3 linked regions of the Homo sapiens genome follow. The protein of the gene in region 2 purifies or fractionates together with the protein of the main gene of each other region. This does not show direct contact. Each region holds a gene or a part of one and is shown on either strand. Other genes may lie near its edges.

Region 1 (4,613 bases), on a different chromosome or scaffold from region 2:
AGTTTTCCCATTTGGAGGTATCAACTATTAACATTTCCTTCGAGTCTTTCTATTCATTTTTTTGCCTAGTGGAGATCATGTGGTACACCCGGCTTTTTCCACTTGAGGCTGTCACATGATCATTTTCTCATATTAAGAATCAACCGTGAACTGCTTTTAAAACACTGCCTCCCACTGCATGCCGTGGATGTTCTTTAACATTTCTGCTGCTGGCTCTTTTCTGCCTTCCTCTTTGGTATTTTGATTTTGGCTTCTCTCAGAAACTCATTTTAATTTTTGTCTCCCTATAGCTGGAACAGCTTTGGGTCTTGGGGTTGTGAACATCCTCCATACCATGAATCCCTCCCTTGTGATCCTCTCCGGAGTCCTGGCCAGTCACTATATCCACATTGTCAAAGACGTCATTCGCCAGCAGGCCTTGTCCTCCGTGCAGGACGTGGATGTGGTGGTTTCGGATTTGGTTGACCCCGCCCTGCTGGGTGCTGCCAGCATGGTTCTGGACTACACAACACGCAGGATCTACTAGACCTCCAGGAACAGACATGGACCTTCTCTCCAGAGCTCCTGAGTGGAATCAAGTTCTTGTCTTTAGGATGACCGTTTCTTAACAATCAAATCTGGTATTGAACTGCAGGTGACTTTGGCAGAGAAATGTTTTCACTTTTGGTCTCCTCTTCCAGAGTCACCTTTCCCCACTCCTATTTTTGTAGATGCTATTCTTTCTGATGTCTTCTTACTAGGGGTCATTTTAGCTCAAACCCTGTAAGTTACAGTCACAATTTTCTGTGCCAAAGCAGCTACAATAATAGAGAGGAAGCCTTCTTAGAACTCTGCTTACTAATGTATTAATACCACTGAGACCTTCAGGCCTTGCCTGGGATATCACTTCATCCTGAAGTTTGCATTAATAATCCTTCCAGGCCGGGCACAGTGGCTCACGCCTGTAATCCCAGCACTTTGGGAGGCCGAGGCGGGCGGATCACGAGGTCAGGAGATCGAGACCGCCCTGGCTAACATGGTGAAACATGGTGAAACCCCGTCTCTACTAAAAATACAAAAAATTAGCTGGGTGTGGTGGCGGGTCCCAGCTACTCGGGAGGCTGAGGCAGGAGAATGGCATGAACCAGGGAGGCGGAGCTGGCAGTGAACTGAGACCGCACCACTGCACTCCAGCCTGGGTGACAGAGCAAGACTCCATCTCAAAAATAATAATAATAAATAATAATAATAATAATAATAATAATAATAATCCTTCCAGCTGGGCGCAGTGGCTCACGCCTGTAATCCCAACATTTTGGGAGGCCGAGATGGGCGGATCACCTGAGGTCAGGAGTTCAAGACCAGCCTGGCCAACATGGTGAAACCCCATCTCTACTAAAATACAAAAATTAGCCGGGCGTGGTGGCATGTGCCTGTAGTCCCAGCTACTCGGGAGGCTGAGGCAGGAGAATTGCTTGAACCCGGGAGGCGGAGGTTGCAGTGAGCCGAGATCATGCCACTGCACTCCACCCTGGGTGACAGAGCGAGACTCCGTCTACACACACACACACACACACACACACATCCTTCCTCCTCTAACCCCAAACTAAGATCACAGAAGGTGATCCAGTCAGAGAACAGAGGGAAATCTTACCAGGAAGGGCTTAAGTACACTTTTTTTTAAAACAGCTTTATTGTTTTTAAAGCCTACAATTTGATAAGCCTTGACATATGTATACCTGTGAAAGCATCACCACAATCAAGACACTGGACATATCTATCACTCCCCCATCTCAGATATCCCCCCTAATCCTGGATACCATTTGTTGAAAGATGTTATTACTCTAGCTGAACTTACAAGAGACTTTAGACCAGGGATCTAAATTACAGTGGCCTTAGTGACCTTGTCCTTATCTTCTTAGGACAGCTGAGAAGCCACTGGGACTTAGAGCCTTTAAAAGGAGATTAACTGTCCCAAAAGGATCTTTGCTACTGACCAGCAGACACTTCTTCCTTCAGTAGCCTTTCATACTGTGTTGAGTAACACCCTAGGGTGTCCATTAAAGTTTTGAGTTTTACCTAGAGCCCAGAGCCATGAATCAGGATTCTGTCTACATGATTCGTGTTTTCATTGGTGTCAAAATACAAAAGCCAAAGTTCTGGCTATGAATTGTTAACTTGGAAGAAATACTAACTGCCACCACTTATTAAGTGCCTACTGTGTGCCAGGCTCTGAACTAGGTGCTTCATATACATTATCCTAAATTATCTCAACATATGAGGTAGGTGTTTTAATTTTTATTTTATAGAACTTGGTGTGTTTGACTGTTAAGCTATGGGGCTAGAGAGAGGGTTTGATCCCAGGTCCCTCTGTGCTTTTGCTGCTGAGCCACACAACCTCTCATTTCAAAAACACTTTCAAAATGCTAACATATTCTAATTCACTCTAGGCCACCAAAAACTTTAATACTAATATCTGATTTGTAAATGACTTAATGTATCCTTGACCCTATCAGCTGAATTTAATGAAATATTCCTCTCTGCTGTGAAATTTTACCAGTATAGTATTTGGTCTAGTGACAGGTGTTCTATTTTTTTGAGACGGGTCTCACTCTGTCACCCAGGCTGGAGTGCAGTGGCTCAATGCAACCTCTGCCCCCCAAGTTCAAGTGATTCTCCTGCCTCAGCCTCTTGAGTAGCTGGGATTACAGGCACATGCACCACGCCCGGCTGATTTTTTTTTGTATTTTTAGTAGACAGGGTTTCACCATGTTGGCCAGGCTGGTCTTGAACTCCTGACCTCAGGTGATCCGCCCGCCTCTGCCTCCCAAAGTGCTGGGATTACAGGTGTAAGCCATCACACCTGGCCCTAGTGACAGGTTTTTATGGGTACTTTTAGATGATCTAAGAAATCATGTGCATATATCTTTCAGATTTCTATTTTGGGAAAATGAAGGTTTCTACAACATATTGTTTCAGTGTTCAAATAAACTGAAGGACTCAACATTACATTTGAACTATATCCTTCCTAGTGGGTTAGTGTGAAAAAGAGTTTGGCTGATTCCTAAAACTCTGCCAGCCCTGCAGTAATCTCCAGGGCCTGGTTATTGTTCAGACATTCCATGGTGATTCCTGGGAAGGAAGCTTGGCTGCTCAGTTTCTGAGTCTGGGGTGAGATAATGTTCTGGGAAGGGACATCTGTTCTTTGGTGTAATCTCTCATGGTGAAATCTGCTCTGTACATCAGACAATTGCATTGCTACCAAGTTTCATACCAAATATTTGAAAGGATGGTATTGAATCTAAAACCAAATATTAGTTTTTATTAAACTCATGGGAAGGCTAATATATTCCAACGTAAATTATTACATATGGTTAAGTAATTGCATGTTAATTTATTTTAATGTAAATATTTTTGTTACTGTTCTGAGCCAAATTCTAAAGAAAAAATAAATACATTTCCTTGTTGAAATCCTGTTGTATTTTGTTTTGTTCGTAACTCATTAGCCAAAAGCATTTTCCTTCCCAGAAGAGATTTAATTGTTGCACTGCTTACGTTTTGAAGGTTATATAACTTCCTTAAGGCCTCTAATATCATTGCTTTCTTAACCAAAAAAAGTCTATTAATAGAAAGCATGGCTGGGCATGGTGCCTCATGCCTGTAATCCCAGCACTTTGGGAGGCTGAGGCAGAAAGATTGCTTGAACCCTAGAGTTCGAGACCAGCCTGGGCAACATGCCAAAACCCCATCTCTACAAAACAATACAAAAAAAATTAGCCAGGCATGGTGCAGTCTCAGCTACTCAGGAGGCTGAGGTGGGAGGATCACCTGAGCCCGGGAAGTGGAGGCTGCAGTAAGTTAGTTATGATCATGCCATTGCACTCTAGCCTGGGCGACACAGTGAGACCCTGTCTCAAAAACAACAAAAACAAAACATTGCTATATATAACATTGAAAATTTGGCATAAAAAAGCAAAGTAGCCCCCAAGAAAGAGGTTTGAAACTAAGTGTTAAGCATTTACTGAGTCCCTAGACCCACTCCCTCTTTTTATGAGGCCCTATGTGGGTCTCATACAGGCATTAGAAACAATCCCAAATTACTATTGCTGTGTAACCTCAAAACTGAAGAGCTTAAAACAACAGTAATTGTTTCACGTCGTGGTTTCTGTGGGTCAGGATTTGGGAAAGGCTCAAACTTGACAGTTGTAGCTCAAGAGTATCCTGCACTTGTAGTTGTCAGCTGGAATAGCACGAGGCTGGCTGGCCAGGCATCTCCCAATGTGTGTGGTTACAGGGTCTCTCAGGTGGCCTCTCTGTGGGCTAGTTTGGGCTTCCTCACCACATGGGTAGCTTCAAAGGTAGAATTTTTTATGAGGCGGCTCAGGGCCACCAGCTAGTTGCTCCAACAAATCAACCATCAGCAGCACTGCCTTTTATGACCTAGCCTTGGAAGTCATCCCAGCATCACTTTTGTCACATTATTCAGTCACCTCTCCATCTAGAGAATGTCACAGATTTTGTTGACATTTAAAATTGCCACCTCCCACCTCAAGAAGCCCAGCTGGTGTGGGAGGCAAGACTGGTCCAGACGATGGCACCAAGACTACCAAAAATAAGCTGCCCCAGGTAGATGG
Region 2 (3,997 bases):
CTGGTGCTGGAGCAGTTCCTGACAGTGCTGCCAGGGGAGATCCAGGGCTGGGTGCGTGAGCAGCACCCGGGAAGCGGTGAGGAGGCTGTCGCCTTGGTGGAGGACCTACAGAAGCAGCCAGTGAAAGCCTGGCGACAGGTGAGGGGCCCTTCCACATCCAGGGGCACCTGGATGGTATCTGAGCTCGAGAGAAGTGGGTAACCTGCAGAGATAAGTCTCCCAGAGGCTCACAGGGTAGGGGAGACACAGAGCCCCCAGGAGCAGGCACACAAGCACAGTGTGCCATGGGTGCCTTTCTGAAAGATGCGATCCAAAGTAAATGTGATTTATTTTTTGTGGCTTTGGAAGGCAGCAATAGGGCTGAAGTGCGAATGTTCCAGACAGGAGGTTTTAGCTCCATGCAGGGTCTGCTGATGTTTATTTGCATTTTGCTCTAGGCCTGGCTCTGGGGACACAAGGGTGTGCATAGAGCCAGCTCCAGAGTGGGGCGAGAAGGTGGAGCTGTCCGGGGCCTCTGCTACCTTGTGGGATGTTGGGTCCTTCACATTGGATGCATCTGGGGAGGTTCTAATGAGTGGCTGGGGGATGGGGTTCTGCCTTTGGCAGGAGGGTCCCCAGCTACCCCCTTGCTAAGTGGCTGTGATTCTGGCCTTTCAGGGCTGGTTCTTGCCTCGTGAATGATCGGGGAGCATCCTTGGGCACACAGCATTACCTGGTATCACATTCTCCTCCGGACTTTTCCTGGGGCACCATATTGGTCTCCTTCCCACACCCCAGCATCCTGAGGGTCATGTCCTGTGTCTCCTTCCCAGGGAGTAAACTCTGTCTCCCCCGGTCTGGTCTCGGGCTGATGAGCATGTTGTGGTTCCTGCACAGGATGTGCCCTCGGAGGAGGCGGAACCCGAGGCTGCAGGCCGGGGATCCCAGGCCACGGGGCCTCCCCCGACGGTGGGGGCACGGAGGCGGCCGTCTGTTCCCCAGGAGCAGCACAGCCATAGCGGTGAGTAAGCCTCCGTTCTTGTGGACAGTCGAGTGGCTGGGCAGGGACCTAGCTTTGTCACCGGCGTTGCCCTAAGGGTCACAGGCAGGACAGCTCCCTCTGTGAAGTCCAGGGCGTGTGTGCATGCGCACAGGCTGGGGAGGCCATAGGCGTCGGTGTCAAGCCTGGGCTGGCCTTTCTAAGGCTCCATTCTTCTCCTTCAGCCCAGCCTCCTGCTCTTCTTAAAGAGGGTCGTCCCGGAGAGACGACGGACACCTGCTTTGTCTCTGGGGTCCATGTGAGTCACCAGTCCCTTTGTCTTCTTTAAGGCACTTGGCCCTGTTGAGTTTGTAAAATGGGACTTGCTGTCCCATCAGGCCTCTTTCATCTGACCCATCCTGTCCCCGCCAGTGCTGCTGGGAGGCCTGAGCCGGGTCTTCTCACCCCATTCCAGGGACCTGTGGCATTGGGAGACATCCCATTCTATTTCTCCCGGGAAGAATGGGGCACCCTGGACCCTGCTCAGCGGGATCTCTTCTGGGACATAAAGCGGGAGAACTCCCGGAACACCACCCTGGGTAAGCACCCAGGGCCTTTGGGTCCAGGCTGGCCGCCCCCGATTCTGCTGGAACTTCAGTCTTGTTTCCCACCCCATCCTTAGCTGGTTCCAAAGCAGGCTCTCCCTAGGTCTTGCCAGGAGCCTGAGTAACTCCTTTCTTGGCTGATGATCAGTTTTTGTGCGTTTCCACATGCAGCATGGGACGGCGCCGGCGCTGCCCAGCCCTGCAGTTGCTCTAAGGGCAACTTCTCCTTTGAGTCTCACAACCTAGTGCATGGAAGTATTGTCCCCATTTTACGCATAAGGGACCTGAGACTCAGGTCAGTGGATGCTGAAGGGACACAGCTGGGACTTGGATCAGGCACAGTTGTGAGGCCACCTTGGGCTGCTAGGAGCAGGGGTGCTGACGGGGAACCCCAGCTGCTCACCAGCCTGGGCCCCTGCTCGTCAGAACTGCACTTACCAGGTTCCTCTCCATGCCAGGCCCCTTCTCAGCACCATCAGGGATCATCTTGTTCAGTCACACTCCCAGGAGGATGGGCTGCGACCTCTGTCCAGATCTGTGTTGAGTTTGGAGAACTAGAGCCTGCGTGGTGAAGGGAGCCACACTAGCTAGACCAGTTTGGCTCCTCAGTTTCCGACTGTGACGGTTGGGAAAAATTTTCTTTCTTTTTTTTTTTTTTGAGATGGAGTCTTGCTCTGTCGCCAGGCCGGAATGCAGTGGTGTGATCTCAGCTCACTGAAACTTCCACCTCCCGGGTTCAAGCAATTCTCCTGCCTCAGCCTGAGTAGCTGGGATTACAGGCATGAGCCACCATGCCCGGCTAATTTTTTTGTATTTTTAATAGAGACGAGTTTTCACCATGTTGGTCAGGCTGGTCTCGAACTCCTGACTTCATGATCCGCCTGCCTCAGCCTCCCAAAGTGCTGGGATTACAGGCGTGAGCCACCGCGCCCGGCCCTTGAAAAGTTTCAGAATTACTATAAATCTGTTCTGCTGTGGAGCTTGATATCTGGGGTTCAGAGTGGGACATTGGATCCCAGTGTGGCCTGCAGGGCACAGATGGCTTAGGGGGCTGGCCCATGCAGGCGGGATCAGAGGCTTATTCAGACTGCTGCTCTGCCGAATTTTTTCATCATCCCTGATTTATTTGGGTTTTTGTTTGTTTTTGAGACAAAGTCTCGCTCTTGGAGTGCAATGGCATGATCCCGGCTTACTGCAACCTCCGCTTCATGGGTTCAAGTGATTCTTCTACCTCAGCCTCCTGAGTAGCTGGGATTACAGATGTGCGCCACCATGCCCTGCTGATTTTTGCATTTTTTAATAGAGACGGGGTTTCACCATGTTGGCCAGGCTGGTCTCGAACTCCTAACCTCAGGTGATCAGCTCGCCTCAGCCTCCCAAAATGTTGGGATTACAGGCTTGAGTCACTGCGCCTGGCCAATCATCCCTGTTTTATAGATGAGGAACCTGAGAATTCAGCTGTGTGAACCCAGGGCTTTCTGAACCTGGAGGCCAGGGAGCTTTCCCCAGCCTTGTTTCTTCCTCACCTCAGCTCTGGCCCCAGAACCGCGTGGGACTGAAGAGGTCGCCTCCTTCCCCTTGCAGGTTTTGGGCTCAAAGGCCAAAGTGAGAAGTCCCTGCTGCAGGAGATGGTGCCGGTGGTGCCAGGCCAGACAGGCAGCGACGTGACTGTGTCCTGGAGCCCCGAGGAGGCTGAGGCCTGGGAGAGCGAGAACCGGCCGAGGGCGGCCCTGGGCCCAGTGGTGGGCGCGCGACGGGGGCGGCCACCCACTCGCCGGCGCCAGTTCCGGGACCTGGCAGCCGAGAAGCCGCACAGCTGCGGGCAGTGTGGAAAGCGCTTCCGCTGGGGCTCGGACCTGGCGCGGCACCAGCGCACGCACACGGGCGAGAAGCCACACAAGTGCCCTGAGTGCGACAAGAGCTTCCGCAGCTCCTCGGACCTGGTGCGCCACCAAGGCGTGCACACGGGCGAGAAGCCCTTCTCCTGTTCCGAGTGCGGCAAGAGCTTCAGCCGCAGCGCCTACCTGGCCGACCACCAGCGCATACACACGGGCGAGAAGCCTTTCGGCTGCAGCGACTGCGGCAAGAGCTTCTCGCTGCGCTCCTACCTGCTGGACCATCGGCGTGTGCACACCGGTGAGCGGCCCTTCGGCTGCGGAGAGTGCGACAAGAGCTTCAAGCAGCGCGCGCACCTCATCGCGCATCAGAGCCTGCACGCCAAGATGGCCCAGCCCGTGGGGTGAGCAGCTGGCTTGGCCGGAAACCCGGGGGAGGCCCAGCCACGGCACATCCTGCTTTGTTCACCACTGGGACTCTCCTTCCATCTGTGGCCACCTCCCGGGCTGTCCGAGGGACCCCAGGGTACCTCACACTCGGAGCTCGCCTGCCCTGCTTGGCTCTGAGGACCTGCCCAGCGCTCAAAGGGAACGGAAGC
Region 3 (4,859 bases), on a different chromosome or scaffold from region 2:
CCAAGGTCTGCTCCCGAGCCCTTCTTAGGTGCCTCCTGCAAGCCTACTGAGTGAGGTCAGCCCTCAGAGCATCGGACGTCAACGCCCTGGCCTTCCAGGCACAGAAGAAATCATTTCTGAGAACCTTGAGGACATTCCGAGTAGTTGTGCCAGGAGGCCCTGATCCTTCCCCAAGTTCCTTCCGGTCAACTCAGCCTGGGGGAGGTCTCTGGAAGAAGACACCTGGGGACATCCGATTTGGTGTGTGATTCAGAAGAAAGAGCAAAGAGGGGAGGGGACACTAGCCTGGCAGCCAGGGGACACCAGGGCAGCCAAGCTGCTTCAGGCTCCACCTTGTCCCAGCCCCTGCCAGCCACACGAGGGCTGAAGCTCTGCTCCTGGGGGAGGTTCAGCCAATGCTGGGTCCAGCAGCTGCTGCAGCTTCCAGGAGCTTTAACCCTTCCTGGGGCACCCAGGCTGCCTGGGATACAGCCATGAGATAGGCAAGGGGACAGGGAGGTGACAGGAGGGCCAGTGTATTTGAAAGTGCATGCAAGTGGGTGTGCCAGTGTGTGTGTATGTGTGTGAGAGAGAGAGAGAGAGAGAGAGGGAAAGAGAGAGAGATGGGTAGGAAGACAGTCTGTCTCTTTGAAGCCCTCAGGAAAGGACAAAAAAAAAAAAAAAAAAAGAAGAAGAGGCAGCTGCAAGCTCTTACAGGGAGGAAAATAAATCCTCCCCACGAGGCTAGCCCATGTCCTTAGGGAAAAGCCCATCAAGCCTACTTTTGCTCATTGACTCTTAACGTGCCATTTTATGGACCAAGAAGCAGTGCCCAGGGGCCACTGGGACAGCAGCAGCAAGAGCTTTGGGACAAGCTGGCCTTTCATCAGGAGGAGAAACTGGTAGAGGAAATGACAAGAGTGTTTATGCCTCCGGCAAAAGGACTGGTGAGGGCCACTCCGCTCAGGCGCCCTGTCCCCGGCTCTGGTGCCAACCTCTGCCCCCCATTCCAGGCCCTGGTGGGCTGCCTTGGGGGAGGGGTAAGGAAAGGAGGGACAGAGGAAGCTCCATCCGCTCCAGGCCGTGGCCAACTGGTTCTGAGGCAGGCCTGGGTCAGAGGCCGCAGGAACTTCTAGGTTGCCCAGAAAGGACTTGGTTTCCTACGTCGGGGATGGGGCAGTGTCTCTGAGTAGCCCCAACAAGGCTGGGCTTCTGGGCTCCCACACAGGGCCACACGCGTGCTGCACTCAACTTCCGGGGCCTGTGTGGGCGCTAGGTCTTGGAGACTGGGCTGAGAAGGGTGGAGGACAGTGTGGGGCGTGGGGCATGGGGCCAGGAGGGCGAGGGGTGGGGGCCTCACCCCTGAGCCACAGTAGCGCCCCAGCCTGGGGGCTGTGCTGTCGTAGCCGTCGAAGAGCTCCATGTAGTCATAGCCGCAGTCGGTCTCCTCCTCCACCTCAAAGGTCTGGAACACGAGCTCCACGCCGTAGCCTTCCTCGGCCACAATGACCCACTCACAGTCCACACCCCCAGGGTAGTTGTTGTCGCCAAACTGGGCGTGGGAGTAAAGGTCCTTGGTCTTCACGTCTGCCCGTACCTGGCCCCCGCACTCTGTAGGGGACAAGAGGGGCCAACCAGCCCTGAGCACCGCAGGTGCCAGGCCCCATGGCACACTATGCCATGGCGTGCCCTCACGGCAGGATGGAGGCCTGGGTGAAGGCCACGAGGCCAGTGATGGGTGGGTGGGGGCCTGGCCCAGAACATTGCTGTGCTGCCCCATCTCTAAATAGAGGGACCTTGGCCCTAGGCTGAGGGGAACAGGCAGTGAGGCTCACCGAGAGGAAGACAGCATGGAGCGGTGGCACGAGGCACCACACACTTTGTCTAAAGAGGGCATTGCTCATTTTCTCCAGCTGATGGCTGTCATGGAAGAATGTGGGCCCAGTGTCGCCACAGCTTCCATTTTCAAGAGAGAAGCCGTACATCTGGGTTTTATGTGAAAACTCCTAACTTTTAAGTGTTGGCTCACATTTTTAAAAAAAACACAGTGTGGGCCAAACATAGCAGGTCTGAGGGCCAGATGGAGTTCCGGGCCTCCGGTTTGTGACCCTGTGCTGGGAAGGGCAGAGGACAGTGCATGGGGCCACCCTCCTCCCCAGGCCCTCTGGCTTTTGTGCACCTGGCACTCAGGTCTCGCTAGAGGAGGTGGGGAGAGGGAAGGACGGGGCTGGGTCAGGGACTGAGTTGAAGGGGAAGAGGGGAGGCTGTGGACCATCAGCTCTGGGGATGCCCTGACAGGTGGCTTAGGACCCAGGAGGAGACTGCAAAGCTCCCTCGTGGCATCCTTGGTCTGGCACTCAAGGCATCCCCCTGGACTCCAGCCTTTCTCTGCAGCCACATCATTCCCACAACCTGCTGTCCTCACACACCCATTGCTTCGGCCAAAGTAAATGACCTGCTGTCACCTGGGCACACTCTGGGCTGGGCTGGGGTTGTGTCTCTGCCTGGGCACCTCCCCCTGCCTCGAATGCCTCTACCAACACATGCCCAGTTAGGCCGGGGTGCCTTTCTTCCTGCCTGGCTCCCGCTTGGGCTCATGCTGTCACGGGCGGTGCCTGCCTTGTCTCTCTCCTGGACTGCGAGTTCCTAGTATGGGGTGGGGGGCAGGAGTGAAGGGCTCATGCCTGATTCAGGCCACGTGCCCCTTAGTCCTCTCGCAGAGCGGAGCTCAGTTCATGGCTGCTAAATAAACAAGCAAGTGAAAGCCGAGCAAGCCCCTCAAGGGCTGGGATCTTTGCTTGGTCTGTTTCTGGGACCTGCATTTAGGATGCCGCCTCATCCATGTTACATGTCAATAAGTATCAGGAGAATGGGCTGGGCACGGTGGCTCACGCCTGTAATCTCAGCACTTTGGGAGGCCAAGGCGGGCGGATCACCTGAGGTCAGGAGTTTGAGACTGGCCTGGCCAACATGGCGAAACCCTGTCTCTACTAAAAATACAAAAATTAGCTGGGCATGGTGGCAGGCTCCTGTAATCCCAGCTACACGGGAGGCTGAGGCAGGGGAATCGCTTGAACCCAGGAAGTGGAGGTTGCAGTGAACCAAGATCGAACCACTGCACTCCAGCCTGGGCGACAGAGCAAGACTCCATCTCAAAAAATAAAAAATAAATAAAAATAAAAATAAAAAAATAAATATCAGAGAATGAATAGAGTATATTTCAGGGTTGGTGTGTGGCTGGGCTGCTGCGGTGGCCCGCGTACGCTCAGGGGGACCTCTGGGGGCTTTCCTCTCTGTCCCTGAGTTCCCTCACCTCTCCTGTCCATCGTCATCACTGCCATCCTAACCCCTAACCACACCCTCCTATCCCTGCCCCCCAGGCCTGGTTCTCAGGACACAATGTTTGCATCACCCACAACCCTGGCCCTGGGTCGCAGGGCTCAGTCCCTCTGTACCTTCATACCCGCATTGAAACCCCCGACTCTACCCCAGTCTTGGAGACCAGGCTCAGTGAACACTCCCACAACCGGGGACAGTACCTGTGGCGTGGGAGGCCTGGAAGCCCTTTCGCTGGACCGAGTTATCTGAGTAGAAGCGCAGGAACATGCGGCTGCCTGTGGCCAGGACGGGCTCGGGCTTCTTGCTCCCACAGAAGCGGCCGAGGACGGGGGCCTTGGCGTCTCGCCCGTCGAACACCTCTAGGTGGTCGTAGGCACACTCAGGCTGGGACTCGATGTCCATCTCCATGAAGGTCTAGGGGGATGAGGAAGGAGCACAGATTAAAAATTTGGCTGGAAGGCAGGTGGGGCAAGGATGAGGGCCCCAAACCTAGGCCTCACAGATACCCATGGGAGCAGCCACAGCTGGGGATGACAGTGAAGGAGGGCCCAGGAATAGGGCGAAGGCAGGGACGCCCCTAATTTATACTGGGAAAGGGGCCTCTGTCCAGGCCAGACTTGGGGTCTCCTGGGGATGGCAGACCTCTGGGCTCAGCCTGCAGCCTGTGTGGCTCTGGGCAGTGCCTCTGACCGGGGGCAGCCACACCGCATAAGGAGTGGGGAGGGGACCCCTTACCAGCTTGACCCGGTGCCCGGGGGTGCTGGAGATGGCCCACGTGCACTCCTTCTTGCTGGGATACTTGTCAGGCCAGTTGGGGCTGGTGATGGTACCACTGGTGGATGTCACCTTGTGGTCACAGCCGGCTGCAGGGAAGCGAGTGACGGAAGGGGATAGAGAGGGACCCCAAGCTCCGATGCCTCCTGTGGGGAAGGCCCTTCCCTCCTGCCCCCCCTCCTTTCTTCCATCTCTTGTCCCACTTATGAACTGGATGGCAGGCAGGCATCGTTTCTTTTTCATGAGGTTACTGCGTCTGGGGAAAATCTAGCTGCCCGATTCCTACAAAAGCCTTGAGTGAGGCCTCACATGGCAGCACTCATGAAGCAGCCATCGCAGGCTCCCTGGACAACCCCCAGACCTTTGTAGGTGTTGGGCCACAGGGGTCATATCACCTGTGCCTCTCCATTTTTCTTTTCTTTCTTTCTTTTTTTTTTTTTTGAGATGGAGTCTCGCTCTGTTGCCCAGGCTGGAGTGCAGTGGTGTGATCTCGGCTCACTGCAACCTCCACCTCCCAGGTTTAAGTGATTCTCCTGCCTTAGCCTCCTCAGTATCTTGGATTACAGACGTGCGCCACCATCTCTGGCTAATTTTTGTATTTTTAGTAGAGACGGGGTTTCGCCATGTTGGCCAGGCTAGTCTCAAACTCCCGACCTCAGGAGATCTACCCACCTTGGCCTCCCAAAGTGCTGGGATTACAGGCGTGAGCCACTATGCCTGGCTAATTTTTGTATTTTTAGTAGAGACAGAGTTTCACCATGTTGGCC

The links. Proteins that work in one complex are often made in the same cells at the same time.
Region 1: the proteins of ZNF213 (region 2) and GNE purify together in Homo sapiens (affinity purification with mass spectrometry; one large-scale study listed by BioGRID and IntAct). This does not show direct contact.
Region 3: the proteins of ZNF213 (region 2) and BMP1 purify together in Homo sapiens (affinity purification with mass spectrometry; one large-scale study listed by BioGRID and IntAct). This does not show direct contact.

What each region holds. Positions count from the first base shown.
Region 1 is NC_000009.12:36,213,278-36,217,890, reverse strand, and holds the end of GNE (bifunctional UDP-N-acetylglucosamine 2-epimerase/N-acetylmannosamine kinase), read left to right. Parts: intron 1-290; coding exon 291-526; 3' UTR 527-3,450; downstream 3,451-4,613. UniProt on the Homo sapiens protein: Bifunctional enzyme that possesses both UDP-N-acetylglucosamine 2-epimerase and N-acetylmannosamine kinase activities, and serves as the initiator of the biosynthetic pathway leading to the production of N-acetylneuraminic acid (NeuAc), a critical precursor in the synthesis of sialic acids.
Region 2 is NC_000016.10:3,137,542-3,141,538, forward strand, and holds part of ZNF213 (zinc finger protein 213), read left to right. Parts: coding exon 1-138; intron 139-812; exon of another isoform or gene 813-876; coding exon 877-1,000; intron 1,001-1,203; coding exon 1,204-1,277; intron 1,278-1,433; coding exon 1,434-1,557; intron 1,558-3,094; coding exon of another isoform or gene 3,095-3,147; coding exon 3,148-3,806; 3' UTR 3,807-3,997. UniProt on the Homo sapiens protein: May be involved in transcriptional regulation.
Region 3 is NC_000008.11:22,206,176-22,211,034, reverse strand, and holds part of BMP1 (bone morphogenetic protein 1 isoform 3 precursor), read right to left. Parts: intron 4,182-4,859; coding exon 4,054-4,181; intron 3,733-4,053; coding exon 3,519-3,732; intron 1,591-3,518; coding exon 1,340-1,590; intron 1-1,339. UniProt on the Homo sapiens protein: Metalloprotease that plays key roles in regulating the formation of the extracellular matrix (ECM) via processing of various precursor proteins into mature functional enzymes or structural proteins.